Linked DNA regions of Homo sapiens. The protein of the gene in region 2 interacts with the protein of the main gene of each other region in a biochemical or structural test. Each region holds a gene or a part of one and is shown on either strand. Other genes may lie near its edges.

The links.
Region 1: the proteins of S100A1 (region 2) and PPID form a complex in vitro, tested with the Homo sapiens proteins (one study listed by BioGRID).
Region 3: the proteins of S100A1 (region 2) and RPS6KA1 interact in a biophysical measurement, tested with the Homo sapiens proteins (one large-scale study listed by IntAct).
Region 4: the proteins of S100A1 (region 2) and PGM1 interact in far-western blotting, tested with the Homo sapiens proteins (one study listed by BioGRID).
Region 5: the proteins of S100A1 (region 2) and TRPM4 interact in a biophysical measurement, tested with the Homo sapiens proteins (one large-scale study listed by IntAct).
Region 6: the proteins of S100A1 (region 2) and PLB1 form a complex in vitro, tested with the Homo sapiens proteins (one study listed by BioGRID).
Region 7: the proteins of S100A1 (region 2) and PYGM form a complex in vitro, tested with the Homo sapiens proteins (one study listed by BioGRID).

What each region holds. Positions count from the first base shown.
Region 1 is NC_000004.12:158,711,012-158,713,396, reverse strand, and holds part of PPID (peptidyl-prolyl cis-trans isomerase D), read left to right. Parts: intron 1-136; coding exon 137-278; intron 279-2,385. UniProt on the Homo sapiens protein: PPIase that catalyzes the cis-trans isomerization of proline imidic peptide bonds in oligopeptides and may therefore assist protein folding. Proposed to act as a co-chaperone in HSP90 complexes such as in unligated steroid receptors heterocomplexes.
Region 2 is NC_000001.11:153,627,016-153,631,233, reverse strand, and holds the start of S100A1 (protein S100-A1), read right to left. Parts: upstream 2,801-4,218; 5' UTR 2,738-2,800; intron 726-2,737; 5' UTR 713-725; coding exon 572-712; intron 224-571; coding exon of another isoform or gene 156-223; exon of another isoform or gene 1-155. Other genes in the region: S100A13 (protein S100-A13), read left to right, coding at 156-223, 2,997-3,113, 3,636-3,704. UniProt on the Homo sapiens protein: Small calcium binding protein that plays important roles in several biological processes such as Ca(2+) homeostasis, chondrocyte biology and cardiomyocyte regulation.
Region 3 is NC_000001.11:26,546,761-26,550,260, reverse strand, and holds part of RPS6KA1 (ribosomal protein S6 kinase alpha-1), read right to left. Parts: intron 3,395-3,500; coding exon 3,278-3,394; intron 3,073-3,277; coding exon 2,991-3,072; intron 1-2,990. UniProt on the Homo sapiens protein: Serine/threonine-protein kinase that acts downstream of ERK (MAPK1/ERK2 and MAPK3/ERK1) signaling and mediates mitogenic and stress-induced activation of the transcription factors CREB1, ETV1/ER81 and NR4A1/NUR77, regulates translation through RPS6 and EIF4B phosphorylation, and mediates cellular proliferation, survival, and differentiation by modulating mTOR signaling and repressing pro-apoptotic function of BAD and DAPK1.
Region 4 is NC_000001.11:63,599,911-63,603,410, reverse strand, and holds part of PGM1 (phosphoglucomutase-1), read right to left. Parts: intron 1-3,500. UniProt on the Homo sapiens protein: Catalyzes the reversible isomerization of alpha-D-glucose 1-phosphate to alpha-D-glucose 6-phosphate. The mechanism proceeds via the intermediate compound alpha-D-glucose 1,6-bisphosphate.
Region 5 is NC_000019.10:49,164,292-49,167,791, reverse strand, and holds part of TRPM4 (transient receptor potential cation channel subfamily M member 4), read right to left. Parts: intron 1,752-3,500; coding exon 1,577-1,751; intron 1,571-1,576; exon of another isoform or gene 614-1,570; coding exon of another isoform or gene 1-613. UniProt on the Homo sapiens protein: Calcium-activated selective cation channel that mediates membrane depolarization. While it is activated by increase in intracellular Ca(2+), it is impermeable to it.
Region 6 is NC_000002.12:28,597,060-28,600,559, forward strand, and holds part of PLB1 (phospholipase B1, membrane-associated isoform 1 precursor), read left to right. Parts: intron 1-945; coding exon 946-989; intron 990-1,592; coding exon 1,593-1,701; intron 1,702-3,500. UniProt on the Homo sapiens protein: Calcium-independent membrane-associated phospholipase that catalyzes complete diacylation of phospholipids by hydrolyzing both sn-1 and sn-2 fatty acyl chains attached to the glycerol backbone (phospholipase B activity).
Region 7 is NC_000011.10:64,749,975-64,753,474, reverse strand, and holds part of PYGM (glycogen phosphorylase, muscle form), read left to right. Parts: intron 1-287; coding exon 288-402; intron 403-970; coding exon 971-1,072; intron 1,073-1,403; coding exon 1,404-1,551; intron 1,552-1,819; coding exon 1,820-1,878; intron 1,879-2,008; coding exon 2,009-2,150; intron 2,151-2,891; coding exon 2,892-3,099; intron 3,100-3,500. UniProt on the Homo sapiens protein: Allosteric enzyme that catalyzes the rate-limiting step in glycogen catabolism, the phosphorolytic cleavage of glycogen to produce glucose-1-phosphate, and plays a central role in maintaining cellular and organismal glucose homeostasis.

The DNA.
Region 1 (2,385 bases), on a different chromosome or scaffold from region 2:
AAGTGTGATCATTAAGATTATTAATAGCATTTTTAGAGCTTTTTATATCAGAAATGACATAACACTTCTGGACATAGAGAAGAGTAATTCCTGTTTATGTGGTCTTTCATACTGCTTTTATTAATGCATTCTGCAGATACGTGGACAGTTCAAAGGCTGTTATTGAGACAGCAGATAGAGCCAAGCTGCAACCTATAGCTTTAAGCTGTGTACTGAATATTGGTGCTTGTAAACTGAAGATGTCAAATTGGCAGGGAGCAATTGACAGTTGTTTAGAGGTAAGTCTGTTTGATTTTGAACTTTTTGAATAAGTTGGATTAAGACTTAGTTTGAATAGTAGCAACTTTTATATACATTAATATATCTTATTGCATAGGACCTAATGAGGCTTAAGAAAACATTTTGTTTCTAAATATTTTGGACCCTCAGTTCTTTCTCTACATTCATTTTGCTTATAACTCTGTGTCACTTAACAGCTATGAAGATCCTTGCCTTTTTTTCTCAAAGCACATATATCAGCTCATGTATTCACTTAAGAGCACCTATTGTGTGTTAGGCATTAGAAGACAAAGTCAGAAATGATTAAGATGTGGGTTATGGAGTCAGTCAGGCATGGCTTTTTTCTTCTTCTTTTTTTTTTGAGACGGAGTCTTACTCTGTTGCCCAGGCTGGAGTGCAGTGGCGCAATCTCGGCTTACTGCAACCTCTGCCTCCCGGGTTCAAGTGATTCTCCTGCCTCATCCTCCCAAGTAGCTGGGATTACAGGCATGTGCCACCATGCCCAGATAATTTTTGTATTTTTAGTAGAGACAGGGTTTCACCATGTTGGCCAGGCTGGTCTCAAACTCCTGATCTCAGGTGATCCACCCGCCTTGGCCTCCCAAAGTGCTAGGATTACAGGTGTGAGCCACCGTGAAGTAGTTATAGAGAGTTATATAACACAATGTAAGGCATTTAGTGTAGTGCCTGGCACATTTTAAGCACCTAACAGAGACGAGTTATTTTAATTAAAAGATCCATACCCTCAAGAAGCTTAATAAGTGATTCAGGATAGGAGGGGGTCAGTTTCAATTTAGGTTCATCAGGACTTGTGTATGGAGAATGGGTTCTATTGGAACAGGTCATTTATCTTTAGGAGGTCATCCAGGTATGCTAACTGATAAAGCTAGAAAGGTGGCAGTTTTACCTTCCTCAAATAGAGCAATTATGACTCTCTTCCCTGTTGTATAGTTTGAAAAGTTTTCCAAATGAAACTTTAAGAATTTTACATATTAAGCCAGGCACCTAGACTAGCTATGCTCAGAGCAAGTAGAACTAAAATGAGATCCTAATTTTGTAGGGTAGATGGAATAAGGGATAGGAATATATTTAGAAGGGATCATACAACAGAGGAAAAAACTTATCAAAAGAAAAGATGGGTCTTCACTCTGGGTTTTTTTTTGTTCTCTGTCACCCATGCTGGAGTGCAGTGATGCAATCAAAGCTCACTGCAGCCTCAACCTCCTGGGCTCGGGTGATCCTCCTACCTCAGCCTCCTAAGTAGCTGGGACTACAGGCCCTTGCCACCATACCCAGCTGATTTTTAAATTTTTTGTAGAGATGGGTTTTTGACATGTTGCCCAGGCTGGTCTCTTAACTCCTGGGCTCAAGCTGTCCACCCGCCTTGGCCTCACAAAGTGCTGGTATTATAGTTAAGAGCCTCTCTGCCCAGCCTCGATCTCTTTTTGACCTGTGAGGCAGGTAAAATCTGAGTATTGGCCATTAAAAGATGTTACATAAACAAAAGATAATTTTAAAATGTTTGTTCTAGGGGAGAGACCTGATGCATAAAGTCTCTTAGGTTAAAAGACCTGTTGTAGGTAAGAACCTAGGTTGGGTATGGTGGTTCATGCCTGTAATTCCAGCACTTAGGGAGGCCACGGCGGCGGGCAGATCGCTTAATTCCAGGAGTTTGAAACCAGCCTGGGCAACATGGTGAAACCCTGTCTCTAAAAAAAAAAAAAAATTAGTCTGGTGTGGTGGCACATACCTGTAGTCCCAGCTACTTGGAGGCTGAGGTGGGAGGAGCACTTGAGCCTGGGGGGTTGAGGCAGCAGTGAGCTGTGATCAGGCCACTGCACTCCAGCCTGGGCCACAGAGTGAGACCTTGTCTTAAAAAAACAAAAAACAAAAACTTAAGAGTTTATAACTTAAGAGTTATTAAGTTATTAATGTTCCTAAAAAACTTATAATTCAAGTAAAAAGTGTATACAAATGTTTCTTCAAAATGATTTTATCTTAAAAGTGTTAGTTCAGGCCCATTCGGGAGATTGAAACCACAGTGGGGAGCATATTGGAAACTAGAGAAATGTCTTTCTCCTCCATGTCCATTCAGTGCCCTCTGCT
Region 2 (4,218 bases):
CTTCTTTACTTTGGGGCCCTGGTTAGCCTTAGCAGCCTAGTTTTCTACATCCTTCATGCCAGTTGAATGAAACTACTGACATGCTCCACATTCTTCTTTCTCCCATGCTTTTGTTCATTCAGTTACCTCCTCCTAAAATGTCTGCATTTACCCAGATAATCTTCCAATGGAAATCCATGGTTCAAGTGCCACCTCTTCAGGAAAGCCATCTGACTTCAATCAGGTTAATAATCTCTCATAACCCTTTCTGGTACATCTGTTAAGGCTCTGTGTATTTCCTGGAGTTCATGGTTTACTTTTAAGTGTCAATCTTTCCCTTCTAAGTCTGTGTGTCTTATTATTGATGAATCTACACAGGGCCTAACACTTAACAGGTGATCAATAAACCAGGGCATTTTGACTTGACCCAGGAGGAGTAGGGGAGCCTGGAAAAACCCAGGAGAGAAGCCTGGGAAAGGAAAGAAAGAGGCTAGGCTGAGCTGGAGGTGGGGTGGGGAGATAGCAAGGGGGTGTCCACCCCATTCCCCCAACCTTCACCCACTCCACTCCCACTCCACCACTCTATGCTCACATCCAGGAAGCCAGAGAGCTCCGTCTGCAGCAGCTCTTTCAGCTCCTTCTTGCTCAGCTTGTACTTGTCCCCCTCTTTGCCCGAGTGGGCGTGGAACACGTTGATGAGGGTCTCCATCGCCGTCTCCAGCTCAGAGCCCATTGCAGCAGTGCACCTACCCACCCCCATCATGGAAGTGAGCTGAGGACCAGGCCCGGAGTACCTGGGGTCTAGGTGAGGGGAACCCTCAGGACTGGCCCTGGCTGACAGCTCAAATAGCTGTGGGATTAGAGCCCTACTGCAATTGATCTTTCCCTGAGATTTTACAATGTGAGGGAAACCCCAAGAGACCTAAGTGCAGGCCTGTTCTCTGTGTCCCTCAGTCTGTACCCCAGCCAGAGGGAATCAGGGTTGGGGCATGGAGAGAGAGCAGTTGGAGCTGGGCTGGCTCCAGAGGCCTGTGGTAGATGTCTGCAGTGGCTGCCCAGGCAGGGATTGAGGAGGGTGGGGCAGGCAGGGGTGGTCACAGGACTGGGCCATGCTTCCTCTGGCTCTATTTTTACCCTGGACCTTGCCTGTCTAGCATAGCCAAGCTCTGCTGTTGAGGGTGGTGGGCTGGGGTGTCCACTACAGCCTTCCTTCTGCTGCCCACCCCTAGCAAGGAGTCAGTCTGGTACCCTCGGTCAGCCTGGTAGAGGGGATGGCAGCCCCAGTGGGTGGCGTACGCCTTCTGGGGGAGGGAGGTCTCACTGACTCTGAGTTTCCTGTCAGCAGCTGGGGGCCCCTTTTGGTCCTTCAACTCTGTTCTCTCCTGAACATGTCATTTTGGCTTCTTTGGGATATGCTCCCATTGCCTCTGCAAAATTATCCCTTCCATCTGGTGGGTGGCAGAAGGGGAGAGAGGAATGTCTGAGCCTTTTCCTTGGAGCCAGAGTTCCCAGGGAGTGGGAGAGGAGACCTGCAGGCGTTGTCCCTGCAACTGCTCACTCCTGGTTGATTCGGGGATAGTGGGAGCAAGGGGAATGGGGCTGCTGTGTGTTGGGGGAGAGAAAGGGCTGAAAGCATGCGGTCCTTTGAGTTCAAGGGGCTGGGAGAGAGTAGGAGAAGAAAGGAGAAAGGAGTGGTCTGTTGAGAGAGAAGACTGCCAAGCCGGGGGGCCTCTTTCCCTTGGCCCTGGGACAGTCTGGCCTTCCACAACCCCAGAGGGGGCAGCTCAGGTGTCTCGGATCAGATGTCCCCATCCTTCCCCAGGCCTAGGGGGCTGGACAATGGCCCCTGATCGAATGACATCCCAGTTCTTCAATGGGGCCCTTGTGAGTGTCATCTGAACTCCGGACCTGAGAAGCAGTTGTCACAGAGACATGGGGGAGATGGAACCCAAGCTGTGGCTGATGAGGGGATAAGGGGTGCTTGAGGGAGGGGTGCTGGTAGCTTGATTACCTGCTCCATGCCAGAGGGGCAGCTGGAGGTCACCTGGAGCCCTAAAGCAGCCTGGGATTTTACGTGGTGGCAGTTCTGAGAGGACTTGGGGGCAGGGGAGATGGGGAAACAAAGAGGTAAGAATGGGGGGAAAGAGGAGTCAAGAGGTCTGGGCCAAAAATGGGAGGAGGAGAAAGGGGAGGTCCTGTGGAGGTCGAGTTGGGAAGGGGCACAGCACCCTACATCTCTGCTTCCCCATATCATGGGAGCTTTGCCCTGCCACCCCCAGACTCCCCCGGGACCTGAGCTCTTGGCAAGGCAGGGTGGGGGTGGCAGAGACTAAGGCTGGCAGGAGAGGTGGGGGCAGAAACAGCTGTTGTATCTGCTCTCTTCTTACCCCACAGGAGGCGAGGCAGGGGAGGGCTGGGACCCTTCCCAACACCTGGGAGACAGAGGGGGCCTTGGCAGGGACTTGAGGGCTCCCTGTGGGAGGGCCAGGCGGTCAGGAAGCTCATGGTGGGTTCCCCACTGGCTTCCTCCTTTGCTGAGCTGCCAGCTCTCTCTCCGACCTTCAGTTCATTTGTCTCTCATCACCACCTTCCAAACCCTGTCTCCCCCAAATCCCAAACTGCCCTCACCCTGACTGACTCCTCCCAGATCCTCAGTGCTCCACAGTGCTATGGTCCCCAGCCTCTTGGAGCCCTTCTGAAGACCCCTCTCCCTGAAGCTGGCAGGCCAGGGACTAGCCCAGTGGGGCAGGGTACTCACGGTTGGCCTGGGCCTGAGGTGGGAGCAGGTTCTGGACAGATGGCCAAGGTTGCAAATGTGGCTGCTGGAGCTGTGTGTGGAGACCTGTCTTCAACAGTCCCTCCCCCGCTGACCCCCCCACCGACTCCACCCCTTCACAGACGAACACCCTGTGGGGCAAGGGGCCAGGAGCAGACAGAGGCGCCCTCTGTCTCCTGGGCTGGAACAGGCGGCCCTTGTCTCTTTCCCAGCCTTGCTTGCCCCGTTCCTTTCTCTCCAGGCAGCAGTGGATGGTGCAGGGGAAAGAGGTGGGAAGGAGGTCCTGGGAGGGACACTGGATGTCTTACCCCAAGCTGGGCCTTGCAGTACCTGTGGCTGGCTGTGCTGGTTGAGCCCGGTAAGGGGGGAATTCTGCTGAGGGGGTCTTAGTCTGTGGCTCCTCCATGGGGCCTCACTGAGAGGACCCTCAGTGAGAAACTTAGTCTTGGGAGTCTGAGAACCCACAGAGGGATTTCAATCCAGGACTCTTCTCTGGGGGTCTCAACCTGGATCCCCCTCTGTGTGTGGGGCCTCAGCCTGGGGTTCTCTGAGGGATCTTGGTCTGTAGCATCCTTTGTGGGATCTCATTCCAAGGGGCCTCTGTGTGTGTCTCAGATTGGGCCTCTCAGTGTTGAGCTCCCTTGATTGGTTGCCTCCCTCTTCCCCCCTCAGCATACACACTCCTGATTAGACATGGGTATGGTGGCAGCAGCCCCCAGTATTGAGAGGACTAGGACCCTGGGACCCCTGCCGAACGAGATCTGTCCAGGCAGCTCCTCTCCCTGACCAAGTGGGGGCGCTCGTGTGGCTGGCAGGGAGCCCGGGTCCAGACCTGAGGGCTCAGGGCAAGCGGCCTGATTGGGCTGTCTCTGGTCTTCAGAATCGACCACGGAAATTTGACACCTCCGGGCTTGGAAGCAGCTCTCTCCTCCTTCCCCGCTGCTTATAAACCTCAGCCCTGAGGCTCCAGCTCACTCTACCCCATCTCCTTGCCGGGTGAGTCTCATGGCTGACCCTGGAGGGAGGCTGGAGATCATTTTTTCTTCCTGGGCTCCCAGGTCCCTCCCCCAGAGCCAGCTCAGACAGGAATTCAGGAAGGAGCTTTGGATGATCGAGCAACAGCGCGTGCAGGAGTGTGTGACGGGGTGGACAGAAAAGAGAATGCCTCTTCCAGCCCCACCCGCCGCACCCCAGGGGGTTGTGAGTGCCTGTACTAAACCCGTCCTGGAGCAGGGAGTCAGAGACGCCCCGTTCCAGGACCCTTGTCACCGGGAGACAGGAGCGGGGAGGATCTGTGGGGTCCTGGGTTCAGCACTCTGCCCTGCTGCCGCTGAGGAGAGGTAAGGGTGGAGCGGGGCAGAGAAAATGGGTCTGTTCAGACGGAGCCAGCTCTGACCACAGGGGACATTTGCCAGACCCTGTGCTTCTCTGCTGGGAGGAGCGGTTAGAGTGTGTGTGGGCGG
Region 3 (3,500 bases), about 130 Mb from region 2:
CAGTGAGCCGAGATCACGCCACTGCACTCCAGCCTGGTGACAGAGTGAGACTCTGCCTCAAAAAAAAAAAAAAAAAAAAATTGGCCAGGCGTGGTGGCTCATGCCTGTAATACTAGCACTTTGGGAGGCTGAGGAAGGCGGATCACCTGAAGTCAGGAGTTTGAGACCAGCCTGACCAACATGGAGAAACCCTGTCTCTACTAAAAATACAAAATTAGCTAGGCGTGGTGGCGTGGGCCTGTAATCCCAGTTACTCGTGAGGCCGAGGCAGGAGAATCACTTGAACCCGGGAGGCAGAGGTTGTGATGAGCCGAGATTGCACCATTGCACTCCAGTCTGGGCAACGAGAGTGAAACTCCGTCTCAAAAAAGAAAAAAATATATATACAAAAATTAGCCAGGCGTGGTGGCATGTGCCTGTAATCCCAGCTACTCAGGAGGCTGAGGCAGGAGAATTGCCTGAACCTGCGGAGCGGAGGTTGCAGTGAGCCGAGATCACACCACTGCCCTCCAGTCTGAGCGATAGAGTGAGACTCCATCTCGGGAAAGAAAAAAAAAAAAAAAAAAAAAAGAACAGGCTTTTGGACATGGCTGCCTAGGTTCATTTTGGGCAGTGTGTTTCAACTAAGTTTATCACAATATTGATTACCCCTTGACTGAGACCTCTCATGTGTCCTTTGACTTTTTTTTAATGGGACAGGGTCTCACTCTGTCACCCAAGCTGGAGTGCAGTGGTGTGATCTTGGCTCACTGCAACCTTTGCCTCCCAGGTTCAAGCGATTCTAGTGCCTCAGCCTCCTGAGTAGCTGGGATTACAGACACACCAAACCTGGCTCATTTTTTTTGTATTTTTAGTAGAGACAGGGTTTCACCATGTTGGCCAGGCTGGTCTTGAGCTCCTGACCTCAAATGATCCACCCACCTTGGCCTCCCAAAGTGCTGGGATTACAGGCATGAGCCACCGCACCCAGCCTTGACTTTTATTAAAAGGAGAGGTGGAAGGCTAGGGAGTGCTTACTAAGACCAGACAAAATGTCTGAGCAATACACACAATGCAAAACTAAAGGCTTTTTTGGTCCATGTACTGGATTGGCAGTTTCCTCTCCAGCCTCATAGTCCCAAAGCCTTCACTAGTCCATCCATCTAGTATGAATTCTATTCATTCGTCACTGCCATTCCAGAATTGATGCTCACAGCTGCTTATCTTAGGAGATCTGGCCAATGTACTCCTCCTGCATGTCTTTCCGGAGTCTTGTTCAGGACACAATCCTTGGCCCTTGCTACAAGTAGAAGCTGCAGCTGCCTTCCAACACACCTTCTATGTCAGCACACAGGGCTGCAGGAGCTGGTCCCCTTCTTCTGTTTTAATTTTTGTGTTTTCCTCATTAGACATGACAAGGACCACACCGGAGTTAACTATTTTGGTCACCTTACATTTTCTTTTTTCTTTTTTTTTTTTTCTGAGATGGAGTTTCGCTCTCATCGCCCAGGCTGGAGTATGGTGGCGCGATCTCGGCTCACTGCAATCTCCACCTCCTGGGTTCAAGCAATTCTTGTGCCTCAACCTCCTGAGTAGCTGGGACTATAGGTGTGCATACCAGCATACCCAGATAATTTTTGTATTTTAGTAGAGATGGGGTTTTCCCATGTTGGCCAGGCTGGTCTCGAACTCTTGACCTCAAGTGATCCACTCGCCTCAGCTTTCCAAAGTGCTAGGATTACAGGTATGAGCCACAGCACCCAGCTTACCTTACATTTTCAAACCACCTCTACACTTTAGTTCAGGCAAACAGTTTCTCCTTCCCAGGGTCCCCTTCCTCAAACATTTTTGGTCTAGAGAAATCCACTCATCCTCCAAGGCTTCCCGCTCCTTAGGTGTCCCCTTGGCCTCTGGGCCCACCCTCTACAAGACTACACCACCACTCCCAGCTCCCCAGCGCGTCGGATATCCACGCACACCAGTCACAGCACCGGCTGCACCACACTGTCGGGTATGCTTAGCCTCTCCTGCCCAGCCTGTGAGCCCTTCACAGCAGGGACCCAGGCTTTTCATCTTTCTCCTCCCTCTGAAGCTGCCACCATACCTCCTGGGGGATGACTTCCACACCCACCAGGCTGGCCTTAGGATACCAAAGCCACCCATAACGTCCTTAAGGCTGACGCCTCCTACTGCCCCCACTACCTCCCCAGCTAGGATTTGGCTCTGACTGGGATCAGAGGTGCACACCACCACACCCAGCTCATTTCTTTGTATTTTTAGTAGAGACGGGGTTTCAACATGTTGGTCAGGTCTTGAACTCCTGACCTCAAATGACCCGCCCACCTCAGCCTCCCAAAGTGCTGGGATTACAGGTGTGAGCCACCGCGCCCGGCCTTGACTTATTTAAAGAGAGACTTGGCTATGACTCTGCCGGGTCAGTGGTCACACTGGTTCCCAGGCCAAGTGGTCAGTATCCAACCCAAAGCCCACTACCAACCATCTTCACACCCTTTGTAAGTCCCCAGAACTCTAACCTTGGCTCGGGGCTCCCTTCTGAACCTCTCTGCCATCCAGCTCTGTGGCCCTGCCTGGACTCACCCTCTCTTGCCTAGCCCAGCTGCCTCCCTGGGCTCCCTGCCTCTTCACTCACGCCCTTCTCTCAGGCCCCTGAGTTAGGGGCCACAGAGGTCTCCCCCAGACTCTTCTAGCATCAACAGTCAGAATGCCTCTGCTTGACCAGCTTGGTAGTTGAGGGCCCCGCCCCCTGACAAACACATTGCATTTACCCTATTACCACCTTCCAGACCTTCACAGCCAGTCACTAGCACTTGGCTTAGGGGGAGGAGGATTGGCTGGCGAGGGATAGCTGAGAAATAGGCCTGTTTCTCCACCTTTGAACTAGGTGCTCCTGAAGACAGAGCTGTCTCCCTTGCCAGACCCAAGGCCCTTGAAGTCTGGGCTGCCTCCCTCAGCCAAGCCTGGGTTCTGCACAGGGAGGTGTCCCCACTCACCTTTCAGCGTTGCCTTCTTCAGCACCTTCATAGCATACAGGTGCCCACTGTCAGGCCGGGTGACTTTCCGCACCAGGAAGACCTGAGAAGGCAGAGCAGGAAGCAGGGCAGAAGATGGGAGAGGTCTGAGTCCAGGCTGACCTCTATCTTCTCTGAGCCCCAAGCTGACCTTTTTGCTCTCCCTGGGTACCAAGGTGACCTCTGATCCTTTGGGCCCCTAGGTGACCCTTGACCCCCACCTCTAACATGACGAGTGTTGCCTTCACAGCTATGGGCTCATGACTCACTTTGCCAAAGGATCCCTGGCCCAGAACCTTGAGGAGCTCGAAATGGGATGGATCAGCCTTCTCAGAGCCAGCCTTGACGTGGTGCGTGATGGAGATCTCCTTGAGGACGCCCTCATCCTGATGGAGGGACAGAGCTGGTGGGCATGGTGGGCCCCATCCAGGCAGCAGGAGGCTCCCCTGCCCAAGTCCATTCCCACCAGACCACAGCAGATGGAACCTAAAG
Region 4 (3,500 bases), about 90 Mb from region 2:
ACTTACATAGCAAGATCTCCGCACTTCCCTACTCCACATACTCATTTCCTGCTTAAAACTGCCCAGATTAGCATTATCCTCAGCCACTCTCAGTGGGAACCTGGTATTTGGAACATGGCCCAACACCCCTTACATTCTAGGAAGAGTGGGGGCAGTTCCCAGGCTCTTTTCCTGACTTTGTGACCTGGGACACCTGAAAGGTTTGTTGTAGACAGGAAATAAGGCCATGCATGTGGCAGTAACTTGTAAAATAGAAAACATGAGGTACATTTTTAGTGCAGTTGCTCCTTGCAGAGTATGAAACAAAAATACGGAGTTGGGGGGCAGTGAGGGGAGCTTTCTCTTAAACATGCCAAATTCTCTCACCTATGGTTCTGCCTGGAACATTCCTCTCTGCTCTTCACCTTCAGGTCTGGTTTTAGTTGTCACTTCCCTACTCCCTCTGCTGGAACCAGGCACGCCTCCTTTATGCTTTCCTAGCCTCCTTTGCTCACCTCCATCCCAGTGCTGACAGCACCTTGTGGCAGTTCTCTGCTTGTCCGTAACCCACCTAGCCTCCAACACAAACCTTCACCTTAAGTCCCAAGCATGTGAGGACTGGGCCTGTATTGTTCTCTGCTGCAACCTACGAGATCACCATGAAGTTTCACCAATCAGCTCATTTTGAGCTCCCTGCCAGTTTACAATCCTCACACTTGTCGGTTTAGCCCCCAAATGGCTATGACACCATGCAGATTAAGCCCTCCGGACTCACACAATGTAGTAGCCATTTCAATTCACTCTTGAGCAACATTTCAATTCACTTGTGAGCACATTGGAGTACAACATACAGGACTAATATTTGGTCAGAAGGACTTTTGTCACTTACCTCATAACTCTACATGTGGTGACCTGGTTAGAAAATACTTATTGGGCTGAATCAATCACACTCAAAGCAGCCAAGAACAAATTCATATATTAGTTGCCAAAATAAGCCATATGGTATACATGGATATTAAAACAAAATTTCACCTTCCCTGCATGCCCTTAATGGCAGTTTAAAAAGAAGAAACTTAAATCTGAGAAGATTCTTGTATAATATAGATGGTCCTATCAACCCAGCATGGTATAGATTGGTATTTCCCAAAATTCTTCTGTTTGGGGTCCTTTTACAAACTCTCAGTACTCATATATTAAAAGCTCTGAAACTCCTACTTAACATTGCCCAAGCCAGTTTCTCCATGCTATTAACCAGCATATTATAACAATCCCCAGAACTACTTGCTCTGGGATATATTTATTTATGGAAAAGACCAACCAGATGAAATATCAGAAGACTGGAGTCCCTGTTCCAACACCATTAGCATACTGGACAAGTCAACCAAATATTTCTGTCCTACCACCTATCGCATTTCATCCTTCAAAAACACTTTGGGGTACTCATAGAGAAAAAAAGAACATCTTTCCAATATGAAAACATAATTTTCCAAGTGTTTCTGATTCATGATTAAATCTTTATTGGCATGACTTAATTAGCATTCCCCACTGTGTTAATTCAGGGCTGTCTTTATGCCTTGGGGAATCAGCTCAGTGGTGATTTGGAGAAGCTATGGGAAGGAGGACTTCCAACAGCTGAAGTTTAAAAAACTAAACAAAACAAAACCCAGCTTACATCCATCCGCGTATCCCAACACTAAGCACAGCCTTCTCACCCTTTCCAAACAACTCCCTATGCTGCCCCCTTGTGATTTCTTTCCCCTTTGAGGACCCCAGGGGAGAAAAGTCTTCTCCGCAGTCCTCCCAACTGAAGCCCTCGGCTAGCCATTACTTACTTAACACACTCAGGAGCCATTTTTCAAAGGTGGATCCCAACTGTGAGCACAGCTTCAAAGTCAGCAGAATAACTGGCTATGTCTGTGTGGGCCTCAAGGGAACTTGGAGGAGAATAAAGGGATCAGTTCAAACTTTCCTGCTTCACTTTCTTAGAAGTGTAGCTCACTCAAATCAATCTGCTGAAAGCTCTTCTAAAGTCTAAAGGGGTCCAGACTACACCACTGTGACATAAAAATTATTTTGAGCCAGTCATTTAAAAATAGGCTTTTTACTAAACTCCTTCATCTGTCTTAAAAGCAGTGTGCCCCAAAGGAACTCTGGAGTTTCACAACCAGGGAAGATCGACTCATTACCATAACTAAATAGACACTGGCATAAAACTACCACATCTCCTATCTAGTCTCTTAAGGGCTGATTTATCTCTCCTAAAGTCGTGGTTTCCAGCAAATGCTCTTCTCCTCTTCCGCCTTCCCCTACTGAGATGATGTATAGGCCCCCAAGTCTAACTGCCTCCTGTCACATTTTTCTGTAAACTCCCACAAATGTCTTTTTGTTGCTCATTTGTCTTTTACATTTAATTTGCAAGCCCCCAGTATATAACCTAGGAGGGTAGATGAAAAGTTTTCCCTACCCTAGAGTCCAAGAGAGAAAAAAATTATTGTTAAATATTTGATCAATGTTGATTACACATCTTATTATCCCAAGATAAATTTATAATAGAATAATACTTATAATCTATATGCAAAATGTCATAGTATATTGGGACCCTTTGTACGATAAAATGTATGCTACATTTATTTACCTGAGGCATAATTTTATAACATTAAATGATTATATGTGTTTATCCTTTCCATCTAACTCTTCCTCTGTCTGGAAGTCTTTTCACGGATATCTGCATGGCTCACTCCTTCACTTCATTCAGGTCTCTGCTCTCATGAGGTTTATCAGACATCCCAATTGCTGCACTAAAAAGAGCAGCCCATCCTCTAATGCTGTCCCCTTTACTGGGTTTTATTTTTCTTCAGAGAACTTATCTTCATTTGACACGTTTATCATCTGTCAGGCTCAACGAGAACCCCACAGCTCTGTAGAGCAGAAACTTTGTTCAATTCACTGTTGTATCCGTAGTACCGAGAACCTAATAGGTGCTCAATAAATATTTATTGAATGAGTCACTCTTTCCAAAACAGTAGAGCACTCTTCCCTGTTATCTTGTTTACAAAAACAAAACAAACCCTCTATCTCAGAAAGGGAGAACGTTTTTCTTTTTCTTCTACAAAATTTCATGAGCATTAGATTTGATTAAAAAAGAAAAAGGAAAAAGATGTTTCACCAAGAGCATTAGTGAAGCCAAGAAAGAAAAAGTCCCAAGCAAGCTGATTTAAGTATTTTATGTAACAAAGATTGTTTAGTGACTAAGTGTCCGGCTCTAAAAAAGAGTCCTGCCTATTCTCTCTTTCTCACTTCTCTCGGCAGGTCCCCTTCCTGAAGGGTAGCCCCATCTTCTATCGCACACTATCCGCTCTTCAAGACATAATTGGTTTTAGGTGCAGGCACCTCTTCTTTCCCAATCCAAAATGTTCTCTCTCTCGCTGAGCTCAGCATGTTTTCTAATTCTGTTCTTTGTATGTCTATGTGTTTCTTCTGTCTTATCTCCCCCAAAAGATTGTATGCTCCTGGATGGAAAG
Region 5 (3,500 bases), on a different chromosome or scaffold from region 2:
ACAGAGACCCAGAGAGATGGGGACAGAGACCCAGAGAGAGAGGGACAGAGACCCAGAGAGAGAGGGACAGAGACCCAGAGAGATGGGGACAGAGACCCAGAGAGAGAGGGACAGAGACCCAGAGACATGGGACAGAGACCCAGAGAGAGAGGGACAGAGACCCAGAGACATGGGACAGAGACCCAGAGAGATGGGACAGAGACCCAGAGAGAGAGGGACAGAGACCCAGAGAGACGGGGACAGAGACCCAGAGAGACGGGGACAAAGACCCAGAGAGAGAGGGACAGAGACCCAGAGAGAGAGGGACAGAGACCCAGAGAGATGGCGACAGAGACCCAGAGAGAGAGGGACAGAGACCCAGAGAGATGGGGACAGAAACCCAGAGTAAAGGGGAAACAGAGACCCGGAGAGACGGGGACAGAGACCCAGAGAGAGAGGGACAGAGACCCAGAGAGATGGGGACAGAAACCCAGAGTAAAGGGGAAACAGAGACCCGGAGAGACGGGGACAGAGACCCAGAGAGAGAGGGACAGAGACCCAGAGAGAGAGGGACAGAGACCCAGAGAGAGAGGGACAGAGACCCAGAGAGAGAGGGACAGAGACCCAGAGACATGGGACAGAGACCCAGAGAGATGGCGACAGAGACCCAGAGAGAGAGGGACAGAGACCCAGAGAGAGAGGGACAGAGACCCAGAGAGAGAGGGACAGAGACCCAGAGAGATGGGGACAGAAACCCAGAGTAAAGGGGAAACAGAGACCCGGAGAGACGGGGACAGAGACCCGGAGAAACAGGGACAGAGACCCAGAGAGACAAGGACAGAGACCCAGAGAAAAGGGGAAACAGAGACCCGGAGAGACAGGGACGGAGACCCGGAGAAACAGACAGAGACCCAGAGAGATGGGGACAGAGACCCAGAGAGAGGGGGAAACAGACCCAGAGAGAGGAAGACAGAGACCCAGAGAGACGGGGACAGAGACACAGAGAAAAGGGGAAACAGAGGCCCAGAGAGACAGAGACAGAGACCCAGAGAGACAGAGACAGAGACCCAGAGAGACGGGGACAGAGACACAGAGAAAAGCGGAAACACAGACCCAAAGAGATGAGGACAGTGACCCACAGAAAAGGGGAAACAGAGACCCGGAGAGACGGGGACAGAGACCCAGAGAGAGAGGGGGACAGAGACCCAGAGAGAGAGGGGGACAGAGACCCAGAGAGAGAGGGGGACAGAGACCCAGAGAGAGAGGGGGACAGAGACCCAGAGAGAGAGGGGGACAGAGACCCAGAGAGAGAGGGGGACAGAGACCCAGAGAGAGAGGGGGACAGAGACCCAGAGAGAGAGGGGGACAGAGACCCAGAGAGAGAGGGACACGGAGACAGAGGGAGACAGAGACAAAGAGACGCAGAGAGAACGGGACCCCCTCAGAGAGAAGATAGGTGGGGCGGAGGGGACAAAGAGAGCCAAGACAGGGATGGGCGGAGGGGCCAGGGTTCAGGGCGGGCGTCCCGGCTCCACTCTGGAGCCCCGAGCATGCAGCCCCCTGGTGCCCGGGCCCCGCCCACAGAGGCCCGCCTCACATTGCTGTGCTTGCGGCCGGCCCCCGTGAAGTCCAGCTCTCCGTAGGCATCGGTGGGCTTCTCCGTGGTGTGTGCATCGCTGTCCCACACGGTCACCACGGCTGCCCCGAAGGCATCCTCCATGGCCACTGCGGGGTGGGCGGTCCGGGGGCGCCCACACTGGCACAAGGTCCCTCTGGGGGTGCGAGGGCGGAGCGTGAACCCAGGGCTGCCCCCCGACCCCAGCACCCTGTCAGCGTGTTCATGCTCCTGTAGAGGGGGCTGTCGACACTGAGTCCACACCCACAGAGGCAGGCAGAGTCCACGCTGCCCCTGGCCCTGGCTCTGACGGCCTCGGGGAGAGACTGGAGCCGAGGACGGTCCCCTTTCCCCACGGGAAGGAAGCCAGTGAGTCCAGAAAGCCTGAGCAGGAAGAAGCAGGTCACTGTCACCTGAGGAGCCTCAAGTGGGAAGGCAGAGGGCCACTGGGGGTATCCTTGCTGTGCCCTGTGCCCCCATCCAAACACATGACGTTCAACACGAGAAAGAACATCCAGCGGGTAACTCAGGGAGAGCCCGCATGCTCGGGGCTGACGCGGCTGTGTGACTTTGGGCGAGCGGCTTCACCTCTCTGAGCCTAAATTTCCTCCTCTAATGAAAAGACAATAATAGCGCGGCCTACTCCACGGAGCTATGAGGAGCCAGGGAAAGAACGCCGTGTTTCCTGAAATGAGGCTCGCATACCAGTCCCAGCCAGAGGCAACGCGACACGAACTTCACACGGAGCTTAAAATAACCTTGAATAACGCAGTGAGAAAGTCATTCCTTTTTCAGTTCTCCTGACGACTGTCAAGGAGAGAGGCTCAGCCGGGTGCTAGAATATTTTTGAATGCCTAACCCTTTGCTACTCTTTTGAACAAGAAAAGCAGGCCTCGGGCTCAAAAAATGGAGCTGGCAACAGCCATCTAGCGAGTAGGGAAACACCTTTGTTTGCTTTTCATTGTCTTTGGCTTCTGTGTGGCTTGTTTCTTCCTCTCTGTGCCAAATGGAACAGGTTTCCATTTGGAAAGTTTCCACATATAAAACTTTCCCCCACCTAAAGAAATGCACAAGTCTCTCTTGCTTTCTAAAGGTGATTGGCACCTGAGTAAGTAACAGGGGTTTGGAGAATGAGAAATTCATTTGAAAATGTAGGGTCGGGTATGATGGCTCATGCCTGTAATCCTAGCACTTTGGGAGGCTGGGGCCAGAGGATCACCTGAACCCAGGAGTTCGAGACCAGCTGTGCAATATAGTCAGACCCTGTCTCTAAAAATAAATAAATAAATAAAATAAAATAAAATAAAATTAGCCAGGTGTGGCAGCATGTGCTTAGGAGGCTGAGGCAGGAGGATCACTTCAGCCTGGGAGATCAAGGCTGCAGTGATGCAGAGAGCTGTGACCACGCCACTGCACTCCAACCTGGGCAACAGAGTGAGACCCTGTTCAAAAAAAAGAAAAGAAGGAAAGAAAAGCAAGCAAGCAAGCAAGCAAGCAAGCAAGCAAGCAAGCAAGAGGCCGGGCGCAGTGGCTCATGCCTGTAATCCCAGCACTTTGGGAGGCTGAGGCGGGTGGATCATCTGAGGTCAAGAGTTTGAGACCAGACTGGCCAACATGGTGAAACACTGTCTGTACTAAAAAAAATACAAAAATTAGCTGGTCGTGGTGGCGGGTGCCTGTAATCCCAGCTACTCAGAAGGCTGAGGCAGGAGAATTGGTTGAACCCAGGAGGCAGAAGTTGCAGTGAGCCATCACACTATTGTACTCCAGCCTGGGAGACAAGAGCGAAACTCCATCTCAAAAAAAAAAAAAAAAAAAAAAAAAAAAAAAAAACTAAGGAAAGAAAGGAAGGAGGGAGGGAGAGAGACAGAGAGGGAGGAAGGAAAGGAAGGAAGGAAGGAAGGGA
Region 6 (3,500 bases), on a different chromosome or scaffold from region 2:
GAGACCATCCTGGCTAACACGGTGGAACCCCATCTCTACTAAAAAACAGAAAAAATTAGCTGGGCATGGTGGCGGGTACCTGTAGTCCCAGCTACTCGGGAGGCTGAGGCAGGAGAATGGCATGAACCCGGGAGGCGGAGCTTGCATTGAGTGGAGATCACACCACTGCACTCCAGCCTGGGCGACAGAGCAAGACTCCGTCTCGAAAAAAAAAAAAAAAAAAATCCATTGACCTGGAATATAACATGCTGGGATTCGAAAAAGAGACACAGAAGAAAAAGAACAGTAAATACCATATATATGAATATCAGATTTTGGTAAAATAGAAATAGTACTTGTCTTCTGTGTGTCCTACTCAATTTATTAATAAATGCATAAAAGGAAACAAAATAGGGTGTACCTTGAAGTTAGATTAAATGAAAATTAGATGGGGCATTGAAAGGTAGTGAGCAGCCACCCTTCTGAACCTTCTATTGGAATTTACCTGACTGCTGAGCAGAGAAGAGCTTATCTATTTTCCAAAGGCTTCCAGCTCAAATTGGGTTTCAATGACTTTTAACAAGTTAATTAACCTCTGTGCACCTCATTTTCTTACTCTGTAAAATGGACATAGTCACATCTACATCACTGGCTTGTTGGGAGATGTGAAATCACAGAATCTAGTGCATGTCTGGGCACATAGTATATACTCAGCTAAGCATTCTCCCTCCTGATCTGGTAAAGAAACAGCTCTCTCATCTTCAAATCCTGGATTCGGTAGGGAACCAATATGTTAGGGGCTTAAAAATTTTCTCAGAATTCCTCAAACTCAGAGATGGGTCTGGCCCATCTCAAAGGTGCCGATGGGCACTAAGAAGGGTGGGGGCTGCTCTTGTGTAAAGTTCCTAGATTGATTCAACCAATATGTCTCTCCCTCTCATTCACTGGCTTGCTCACTCCCTACAGTGCAGGAGGGGACGGCTCCCTGGAGAATGTGACCACCTTACCTAGTAAGTAACCATCAGGGGCTTGAATCTGTCTACTGTTCCACCCATCTGGCCCCTTGGCTTCCCGAAAGTGCCTCCCAGGTAAGCAGCAAATGACATCTGCCTTATGGCCCAGCATTTAAGTAGGAGACAGGAGGCTATGAAAAAGCAGCCGAGGCAGGTAAAATAAACACCAGATTTAGAGCCTGAAGATCTGAGTTCAATCCCTGGTGCTTCAATCCCTGGTGCTGGGTTCAATCTCCGATGTGCTTGTCAGGTGACCTAGGGCAAGTTACCCGCTATTTTTAGCCTCAGGCTTTTCCAACAGGCCCAGGAGGTGCTGAGACAAATTAGGTAGTGACCCTTCAATGCACTGTGAATTGTATTAATACAATTTAATACAAGAGTGAGAGGCTCTTGCCACCCTGGCCCACCTAGTCATCAGGTCATGTCAACTTAGGGTGGTCCCAGCTTATGTCCAGGACACACACTGCCTCCCTGCCTCTCCCCAGGAAGCATGAGGATGATAACACAGCCCACTTTGGGGACCTAGGTCCCACAGTACCAGAGAAGCTATTCTGGCTTTCTGTTCTGAGCCGTCTGCATCCCATTCACCTTCTCTTCCAGATATCCTTCGGGAGTTTAACAGAAACCTCACAGGCTACGCCGTGGGCACGGGTGATGCCAATGACACGAATGCATTCCTCAATCAAGCTGTTCCCGGAGCAAAGGCTGAGTATGGCATTTGGGGAGGGAGGGAGCCTGCAGAGCAGGGAGTGGAATGTGGATAGTACCCTTTAAGACCATGGGGCTGGCCTCTATGTGCAAAGGGGCACTTAGCCACTTGTGAGGCTCAGGCTGCCCTCTTCCCTGCTGCCCCTGTGACGAAGGTTGTAATAGGCCAGAGAGGCTGTGGCCTTGGAGAGATGCGATGCCCCTATAGGTTCAACTCCTGACCTTGCCTTCATGTGCAGCATGTTCTCATAATTGGACGAATCGACTAACCTTATCCAATGTTTACAACTCACCAAGGCACAACAGTGCTAGAGAGATCCACTCCCCGCAGAACCTCACAAGTGGCAATTTCCCAAAAAGATCAGAGAGGGCCAACCAAATGGATGGGGCAAGCCTTCTGGCCCTAGAGGCATCTGGAGCAAAGAGTCATGTCCCCTCCCTAGCCCCATTATGGAGCTAACAAGAAATGGAATGGAGAAGCCCAGAGGTACCCAAAGAAGAGCAACTGCCCAGCCTCCTGGGGTGGGCTCCAAAGGGGCCCCCACCCTGCTCCTAGAGGCCCCAGCAGCCTAGGTCTTCTTGCTCTATGCAGCTCCTGGCTCAGCCATCTGAGCCTCTGTCACATGTCATCTTCTTGCTCAGGCCCACACCTTCTGGTTGAGGGGTGTGGCCCCCAGACCCACTCCCTCAGCCTGGAAAGACTCTTGGTAATAGAAACAGCTGGGGACAGATGGTCCCACCACCGTGTCCTAGGAGATCACCTTGCTATGGATCCATCCCACCCAGGTCTATAACGGGGCCCTGAACAAGTGGAAGTGGGGAGCACAGACGCCTGAAATCTATTCCTTCCATAAATTATAATTTTGGCCTTTTTTTAGATAGAGTCTCATTCTATCACTCAGGCTGGAATGCAGTGGCACAATCTCTGCTCACGGTAACCTCCGCCTCCCAGGTTCAAGTGATTCTTGTGCCTCAGCCTCCGAGTAGCTGGGATTACAGGCTTCTACCATCACGCCCAGCTAATTTTTGTATTTTTAGTAGAGATAGGATTTCACCTGTTGGCCAGGCTGGTCTCAAACTCCTGACCTCAAGTGATCCACCCACCTTGCCTCCCAAAGTACTTGGATTACAGGCATGAGCCACTGCACCTGGCCTTTTTTTGTTTTTAAGATGGGGTTTCACTCTGTCACCTAGGCTGAGTGCTATGGCATGATCTCAGTTCACTGCAACCTTCACCTCCCAGGTTTAAGCAATCATCCCACCTCAGCCTCCCTAGTAGTTGGGACTACAGGCATGTACCACTATACCTGGCTAATTTTTCTGTAATTTTTGTAGAGATGGGGTTTTACCATGTTGCCCAGGTTGGTCTCAACCTCCTGGACTCAAGCAATCCACCCACCTCAGCCTCCCAAAGTGCTGGGATTACAGGCGTGAGCCACCAGGCCTGCCACCTTCCATAAATTATAAACCCAAGCATGTGTAGAGCACATATGATTCCCTACCTCTTTTTGAAAGAACCATTTAGATAAGTTTACAAACAAAAGAATATACGTAAGAGAAAAATCGCAGCCATTGGAGGAAATAAAGAGGAAGCCTGTGTGTCGATATGAACATTTTTACGGTTATTATGTTTGAGCATCAAACTCAGCTTCCTGGCAGCCAGAGTGAAAAGAGGAAGCATGCTAGAAGTTTCATAGGTCTAATTTTAGGATCTAAACTAGTCTTCCAAAGGAGATGAATGGTCTCTTAGCATGGAATCCTAAAGGCCCTTTTGCATGTGGAGTCCCAGAAAGGTGACCA
Region 7 (3,500 bases), on a different chromosome or scaffold from region 2:
ACTCCACGCCTCTGTCACACAGAAGCCCCGCCCTTCACCGACCACTCTCTGGTCTCTGGGCCCTGGCGCCTTTCACAGGTGGCGTCATTCTTACAAGCACAGCAGCCCCTTCCAGTGCCGCCCTGTCCTGAGATGACCTCCTCTTACACACAGCACCCCCAACCTTCCCCAGGTCTGCATTCCCTGCCCCAGGCCCCTTTCAGCAAGACACCAGGGTAGGGGCCCCAGGGCAGAGGCCTTCATTGTACAGGGGTGAGTGGTGACCCTCGTCCAACCTCATCCTGCAGCTTCAAAGACTTCTATGAGCTGGAGCCTCATAAGTTCCAGAATAAGACCAACGGCATCACCCCTCGGCGCTGGCTGGTTCTGTGTAACCCCGGGCTGGCAGAGGTCATTGCTGAGGTGAGAGGCCACCGTAGGGCCAGTAGAGTCAACATGGGTCCCTGCAGGGATCAGCTGGGTATGGTCGTGTAGGTGGTTCACTGCATCAGGGCTCCCAGCTGAAGGCTGAAATCCCTCCTGCACTGTGTTCCCCAAGCCTCGCATCCACCTGGAGGAGGGACACCATCTTAATTGCATGAGGGTGCTCTGTGTGCTAATGGAGGCCCTGGCTGTGGAGGTGAACACAGCAGAGGGAGTCATCCATGGGTCACATCTGAAGTGAGCCTGGAAGGGGGCAGATATCTGGTAGGGAAGGCGCAAGGTCATGCTGGCGTTAGGAAAAGGCCAGGAAGCCAGGAAGGCCTGCTGGGGTCAGGTGGGGTCAGCCATCAGAGCTCAAGGACGGGAGGGGAGGAAGGTGCATGGATGCCCCGTGCCCCATCTGGGCGGCTGGAGGAGGAGGGGCTGGGAGGGCCCCCAGAGCAGCCTGCTGGGTGAAGGGGGCTTGGCTGACCTGGAAATGGCCCCTTCTGTGTTGGGAGGAGGGAGGACATGGGGATGGGCTTGGCTGAGAGCCGTCTTCCCATAGCGCATCGGGGAGGACTTCATCTCTGACCTGGACCAGCTGCGCAAACTGCTCTCCTTTGTGGATGATGAAGCTTTCATTCGGGATGTGGCCAAAGTGAAGCAGGTGGGGAGAGATGCAATGTGGGACAGCTGTGCTGTGTGGAGAGCGCTGGAGGGGCCAGATGTCTGGGTCAGGCGTGGCAAATAGAGCTCATCTCTCCTGCCAGCCCAGGCCGTTGGTGGAAGTTGCCTGGAGTCTGTGGTGGGAAGGCATCATCTGACCTCACATGAACAGTGCTGACATTGATTAGCAATGTCTGCCCTGGTACAGGAGTGGACAGAAGTAGCCAGTGAGCCTCCTGGTAGCCATCCTCCTGGGGCTGACTGGAGTGTGGACTGTAGGATTTCCTGAGGCTGTGGCCTGTTGGTGAGCCCTTCCCCGTCTCTGCCTCCAGGAAAACAAGTTGAAGTTTGCTGCCTACCTAGAGAGGGAATACAAAGTCCACATCAACCCCAACTCACTCTTCGACATCCAGGTGAAGCGGATTCACGAATATAAACGACAGCTCCTCAACTGCCTCCATGTCATCACCCTGTACAACCGTGAGTGGCAGCCACTCTACCCTGTCTCTCAGTGCTCCCCCGTGTTCCTGCGGCATAGTACATATTGCCCAACCAACATCTCCTTTGGACTTGGGACTACTCTTGGGACATGGAATTATCCCCATTTCACAGATGGGCAAACTGAGGCTAAGAGAGCATAGCAAGTGATTGTTCGAGTCAGGCCTACGGTGTCCCAGCCCAGCCTCTGTCAGGAGCTACTACCCAGAGGGAAAGGTAGGCCCACTGGATCCCTCTCGTTTCTCCACAGGCATCAAGAGGGAGCCCAATAAGTTTTTTGTGCCTCGGACTGTGATGATTGGAGGGAAGGTGAGAAGCCAGGCTCCAGCCCTGGGCTCCCGTCCTTTGATATATCCAGGTTGAGGTCAGCCCAGCTGAGTTGCAGGATAGGGGGTGGGGGGCCAGGCAGTAGAGCTGACCCCAGACTTTGTCCCCTCAGGCTGCACCTGGGTACCACATGGCCAAGATGATCATCAGACTCGTCACAGCCATCGGGGATGTGGTCAACCATGACCCGGCAGTGGGTGACCGCCTCCGTGTCATCTTCCTGGAGAACTACCGAGTCTCACTGGCCGAGAAAGGTGGGTGCTGCCAACAGGGACCCTAGGGAGGCTCTGACTAGTTCAGTCTCAGGAAGAGGTATCAGTCGTCTCTTCCTGGGATACTTGTACTTGAAAGAAGAATCTGGAGAGGGCAATGCTTAAACCATGAGGAGGCCAGGCGCAGTGGCCCATGCCTGTAATCCCAGCACTTTGGGAGGCCAAGGTGGGTGGATCACCTGAGGTCAGGAGTTCGAGACCAGCCTGGCCAACATGGTGAAACCCCGTCTCTACTAAAAATACAAAAATTAGCTGGGCGTGATGGCAGGTGCCTATAATCCCAGCTACTTGGGAGGCTGAAGCAGGAGAATCACTTGAACCTGGGAGGCGGAGGTTGCAGTGAGCCGAGATCACGCCATTGCACTTCAGCCTGGGCAACAAAAGCAAAACTCCGTCTCAAAAAACAAGAGGAAACAAAACAAAGCAAAAACCCCATGAGGATGCCCTCTAATGGTGGAATTTCAGGCAGTACAGGGTGAAATTACCTTCAAATCTGCAACAGAGGTGGGGAAATCCAGGTTGGACCTAGATGGTCAAGAATCAACAAGAGGTAGAGGGCAGTGGGGGTGCGGTGTGAGAGGGAGGCTTGGCTGGTGAAGACTGGGAGTTTGGGGTGGGGCGACTCTGAGTCCAGCTATGCCTGGGGCCAGCCTAATCTGAGAGTCCCCAGCTGGTGTGAGGGTCTTCCCTGAGTTGACTTGTCCCCCTGCTGCCACCCCACAGTGATCCCAGCTGCAGACCTCTCTGAGCAGATCTCCACTGCGGGCACTGAAGCCTCAGGCACCGGCAACATGAAGTTCATGCTCAACGGGGCTCTGACCATTGGCACCATGGACGGGGCCAATGTGGAGATGGCAGAAGAGGCGGGAGAGGAAAACTTCTTCATCTTTGGCATGCGGGTGGAGGATGTGGATAAGCTTGACCAAAGAGGGTATGGGGGTCAGGGTTCACGGGCAAAAGACACCCAGGTGTGGCTGCTGGAGAGTGGTGCTGGGAGCAAGCGGCACGTCTGGAAAGACTGGTCCAGGCCCAGCAAGGTCTTGGTCATGGCCAGCAGGATTCTGGGAAACTTTAGAGGGCGCTTACAGCAAATAAGGTTAATGAAATTGGAAAAGAAAGAAGTAATATAGAACTGAAGGAAAAGGAAGAGAATATTATATCAACCCTAAGAGATAATATTGTTTGGGAAATGGAAGTAAAAAAATCCTTGCTCTACGCCGGGTGCGGTGGCTCACACCTGTAATCCCAGCACTTTGGGAGGCCAAGGCGGGCGGATCACAAGGTCAAGAGATCCAGACCATCCTGGCTAACACGGTGAAACCCCATCTCTAC